Linked DNA regions of Homo sapiens: region 1 is linked to region 2. Evidence: fine-mapped expression QTL. Tissue or cell type: whole blood. Region 2 holds a variant in brackets; the other region holds the start of a gene. All regions are shown on one strand. Distances are from middle to middle.

What was found. PIP is the estimated chance that this variant, and not a neighbour inherited with it, causes the effect.
Region 1: GLG1 starts here. The variant in region 2 is fine-mapped to the expression of GLG1 in whole blood (INTERVAL, PIP above 0.99). The same link has a PIP of 0.9 or more in NK cells and lung.

What each region holds. Positions count from the first base shown.
Region 1 is chr16:74,605,759-74,608,388 of GRCh38, reverse strand. GLG1 (golgi glycoprotein 1) reads left to right here and starts at 1,275. Exons shown (of 26, transcript NM_001145667.2): 1 at 1,275-1,732. The coding sequence starts at 1,295. RefSeq lists silencers at 1,105-1,294, 1,525-1,704.
Region 2 is chr16:74,446,204-74,448,964 of GRCh38, reverse strand. It overlaps GLG1 (golgi glycoprotein 1), which reads left to right. Exons shown (of 26, transcript NM_001145667.2): 26 at 1-1,525. Among named protein-coding and RNA genes, the nearest start is that of CLEC18B, 26 kb to the right of the region's middle. The variant A/G (reference allele first, on the strand shown) is at 1,536.

The DNA of each region.
Region 1 (2,630 bases), 160 kb before region 2:
GGAGCTCCTTTTGGGTTCCCTGAGCTCCTGACTTTTCAGGTTCTAGTTATGTCTAACTTGGTCTTGACTGCTCATTTGCGGGTCAGGACAGCAGAAGCTGTCTGTTTACTACAGTAGATGTAATTCGCATTTTTGGACACAATGACCAGTGGAGATTACACAACCCAAACTGCCCTCATTCCCCAACATGTGCATGGACAGAGTGGGATGAAAGTGCGCCAGGGTGGTGGGAAGCCCCAGGGATTCTGGTGGCTAGCCTAGCTGTCTACAGGATGGCAGAGTTCCTCTTGGGCAGCTCATTTAATCCCTCCACGCAGAACTGTTAACATCTCTGTGCCATTCTTCAGTTAAATGAGAACCTAACGCAGGCCTGATGCATGGCTCAGATTACACAGCGGATGTGAAGAGGCTTTGGGAACATATCCTCTCTCCTAAGGACAGGGAGGGGATGCTAGTGTGGGGTGCCTGCGGTGTTGCATGCAGGTCAATGAGAACAGTTACCGACACACAGACTTAACCCGAGTCCTCAAAGATGTGTTTTATTATTATTTTTTCATCCTTTAAACATGAATCTAAATGCTGGCTTAAAATCAGGATTCATGCATAAACGGCTTCCCAGTTTATTAACAATACTGGCTGTGACTTTTTGAGTTCAGTGTTGTGGGCCAGGCACTTAAATTATTATTTCGAATCTTGCCAATGGTACTTTACATTTGAGCTCTTGCGTACCCTGCCAGAGCAAGGATTATAACCTTAATTTTTTTTCTTACCCCAGAACTTATGCTCTTAACCCTATTCAATGCTGTCTCTCTCTTTGGCTAAGAAAGACTTCTGAGGCAGATGGAAGGAAGGAAGGAAGGAGGGAGCGATACAAGGAGAGGCTTTCCGATTCCGTAATACACCTGGTTGTGCAAAGTTCACCTCTACATATAAAGTTTTTGTTTTCCAAGTCATTGAACCGGCGACATATTCTACCGGCCATTTTGGTTGTGGCAACCCCAATTCCCTTGATTTTTTTTTTTGTGACAGCAAATGGAATTAGAGTAGGCCGCCCTGCCCGGGCTTTTTAAGAAACCCCAGCAACCCCCCCGGGTAAGGAGCGCCGCTCTCCCGCCCGCCGGTCCAGGGTGTGTGCGGTTTCCAGCACGGCCTCCTCCTTCGCCCCACTCTGGGTTCGCGGGTCGGCGCCGGCGGGGCGGGGCTCGGCAGGGCCACGCTGCCACGCCCAGCGTCTCCACCCCCTCATTTAAATACGCGGCGCCGGCGAGTGCGTCGAGCTCGCCGCGGACTCAAGATGGCGGCGTGTGGACGTGTACGGAGGATGTTCCGCTTGTCGGCGGCGCTGCATCTGCTGCTGCTATTCGCGGCCGGGGCCGAGAAACTCCCCGGCCAGGGCGTCCACAGCCAGGGCCAGGGTCCCGGGGCCAACTTTGTGTCCTTCGTAGGGCAGGCCGGAGGCGGCGGCCCGGCGGGTCAGCAGCTGCCCCAGCTGCCTCAGTCATCGCAGCTTCAGCAGCAACAGCAGCAGCAGCAACAGCAACAGCAGCCTCAGCCGCCGCAGCCGCCTTTCCCGGCGGGTGGGCCTCCGGCCCGGCGGGGAGGAGCGGGGGCTGGTGGGGGCTGGAAGCTGGCGGAGGAAGAGTCCTGCAGGGAGGACGTGACCCGCGTGTGCCCTAAGCACACCTGGAGCAACAACCTGGCGGTGCTCGAGTGCCTGCAGGATGTGAGGGAGGTGAGGAGGTGGGACGAAGCCGGGAGGGCCAGGCCTGGTGCGGGCCCGAGGGTGTTGCCGGCCTTGGAAGCCGCTGACGCCGGTCGGCTGCTTTCCTTGCTTCCTCTGTGCTGCACTCGCTCCTTCCCTCTTTGCTCCTCACTCCCAGGCGCTTTCAGGGAAAAGGATACCACTCCCACTCCTTCTTTCCCCCGCCCTTATTTCCCTCCCTGTTGCCGGGGTCTGGGACGAAAACCTGGGCTCCTGGCCGCAATCCGCCGAGGCCCAGAGCGTGTCTGTTCGCTCCTGTCTTTTGTGTGATGCTCTATGCAGAGTGTCTCCTCGCCGAAGATCAGTTTAGGATTTTGCCATCAGTTTCGACTAGGACAATTTGTGGCAAGCCATTTAAACATAAAAAAATGCCTGGCGTACTTAGGCTGTAAAGAATGATCTGTTTATTAGCAGTAGATGTAATTCGCAAATCCATATTTTTGGTGCTGAAATTAATGTATGCTTTGTTTTCTTCACTTCCTTTGGTCAGTTGTATTGAACCCCATGTTTAAGCTGTTAACTCCCAGTGACTTGGCGCCCCAAAGCTTGAAAAGTTGGGGAAGCGTTTGAAGCTGTGTTTGTGACTGGGTTATGGGATCTTGCCTTTCTGAGGTCTGAATGTGATTTTAACAGTATCTCTTAATGAAATCTACATTTGTCGTTGCTTGGTGTGATTCAGTTGAGTGACATTGATAATTTATAATCAAGTGACATTGATAATTTATAATCTAGGTTTAATGCTGCAGACCATAATGACAATTCTCAAAGTTTGGGAGCAAATCTGACAGTAGTAACTTTTTCCAGAGGTGTAGGTATATAAAATTAGCCCTAAAGGTGGACAAATAGAATGAAGCTACCACTTGATACT
Region 2 (2,761 bases):
CACACCCAGCTAATTTTTGTATTTTTAGTAGAGACGGGGTTTCACCGTGTTGTCCAGGATGGTCTCCATCTCCTGACCTCATGATGTGCCCACTTCGGCCTTCCAAAGTGGCCGCAAAGTGGCCCACTTCGGCCAAAGTGCACTTCGGCCTTCCAAAGTGCATTACAGGCGTGAGCCACCACGCCCGGCCTGGCCTTTTTTTTTTTTTTCTTTTGAGACACAGTTTCACTCGTTGCCCAGGCTGGAGTGCAGTGGCGCAATCTCGGCTCACTGCAACTTCTGCCTCCTAGGTTCAAGCAGTTCTCCTGCCTCAGCCTCCCAAGTAGTTGGGATTACGGGCATGCACCACCATGCCTGGATAATTTTTTCTTATTTTTAGTAGAGACAGGATTTCATCATGTTGGCCACGCTGGTTTCGAACTCCTGACCACATGTGGTCCACCCACCTTGGCCTCAATTATGTGCATTTTGGTATATTTACTTGTATTTCAACATCTTGTGAGTTTGAAAAACCTGAAAGGCCAGAATGCTTCCTTTTATTTCTCACCATTTGGGCAGCACCTAAGTGGTTTTGTAAAATGCAGCATCTGGTGCTGTGGGTCTCTCTCAGGCCTTGAGGGACACTTCCTTCCTCCCCACTCGCCTCCTCTCCACTAGACTTTGGTTCCTAGAGGGCGTGGGGCCGGGTCTGAGGTTCTTGCCTGCCTTCCCTCCCATTGGTCTTTGGTTGCTCATCCCTCTAACTGCACCCCTTCTTGGTCCTTCCTCCACAGACTTCAGATAATAGATAAGTCATTAGCAAACCAGACCGAATCTTTAGGGTGAAGAGCTCCCCAAAGCCATCTGGTGAGGTCATTGTGGGGACCAGGGACTGATTATTTGTCACCTGGATCACAAAGATGGGACTGTCTGCTCAGGCTGGTGGTGACAGGATCCTGACCCGTGGTCCTCTCCCGCTCCCTCTGCTCCACCAGGACACATGTATAGGACACTGTGCTGTGTGCAGTGGAGAAATCTCCCTGGGCCAGGGGAAAGTTCAGACAGTGCCTCTAGATTGTGTTTTGCCTCCTCCAATGTAGAGTTGACATCTGGACCCCAGAGCCCAGCAGGGCTTTCTGTCAGACATGCTAGGGTGGTAGAAATGGGCCCTCCAGGTCCCCCTGCAGTGCACTGGGCAGAGACCTCCGGAAAGCCGGCAGCGGGAGCGCTTCCTGGGCAGCTTCCCCCAGCACAGTGTTCCCAAACCAGTCCATCCGGAAAACAGTCTGTACAGCAAATGCTGTGTGAGATCTTAGGCTTTTCACTTTTTTTGTTTTGTTTTGTTTTTGAAAGAAAGAAAAAAATACAATTAACAAGCCTCTTTTGTAAATGGGTTTCCTTTCTATGTATAAAATCGTGGTGGTCCCTTGTTTTTACATGTTCATGCTGTGTAATTTTGAGATGTTACTGAGATATGTTCTGAACATAATGTGCATTTTTTTCTGTACAGATGAAATGGGAGAATTTAATAAAGAGTTTGCAGGTTTTTACTTGTT[A/G]AATCTTCTCTGTGGTGACTGGGAGGAACCTCAACCACCTCTCTGCTAGTGGAAGCAGTGGCCTTGAACTTGCCAACTGATGCTCACAAACCTTGCTGATCAGGTCCTTAGTTCTTGACCAGTTAGGTTCAGCAGAGTAGGACTCAAGGACTTTTAGAGGACTAGGGACCTTGATCCCCTTGGTTTCTGTATGCTGCTAGTAGCAGAGCTGGAAGTCACGTCTGGGGTTTTCTGACTCTTGAGCCAATGTGTCCAGAATTATTCATTCTACTGATATGTTTAAGCCCACATCATGAGGCTCTGTCCTGGGGAGAGCAGAATCTGGCAGCTCTGTGTACAGATCTGACGTGTGGATGGCTGGTCCTGAGAGGCGCCTGATCTTCAGTGGCCACCCTTCCCCATCACCCCCTTGTCAGTCTTCTCCCTCACATTCCAGCAGCCCAGTCCCTGCGTCAGTAGCCTTTCCAGACCTCCTCCCTGAGCCTTCTGCTGCTGCCTGTCTCGGCGAAGTTAATTTGCGTCTGCGTGTTAAAAATGAATGGCTTCAGGAATTTGCATGGTAGCAGGGGTTTCTTGAAGTGGTAATATCCATACTACGATTTGAGGAATGAGATGTGCTGCGAGAGGAGGCAGATACTTGGGACCCAGGGTTTGTTCTCAGAACTCATGCCCATCATAGGCAGTTGTCACCTAGGAGGCTGTGGGCCCAGACATAGAGGAGAGACGGGGAGAAGGTGAAGAGTAGAGGAGGAAGAAGGAGGAGGGACTTGGGGTCCTTGTGAGTCATCACTGCAGATCTTGCTCTGTCTAGGGAGCCCAAGGCAGCCATCAGTCTCTGCATGTGGGGAGCCTGTCCGTGAGCGTCTTGGAGAGGCTGCCTGCTTTGATCTAAGCTTAGGAAGGTGGGGTCCATGGTTCAGGCTCCTTGTCACCAGTGCACCCTACAAGGGAGATTTTGGTTCACCTACCCCAGCTCCACTCTGCCCCATAAGTGGACGCCACAGCCCCAGAGGCCCTGGCGGTGATGGAGACAGCTGCCCAGCTGAAGCCTTAATAGTCTGAATGTATCGCCCCCACCCTCACATTTTATGTGTGAAGATGTTTCTGGTAAAAAATCCTTGGCCAACATAATCCTCAGAGGCATTTGGCATTTGTCCTCAAAAGGGGCTAGGAATTAAAGAGTTTTAGCCAAAATGAGGAGAACCTTAGACATCCAATTCTCACTT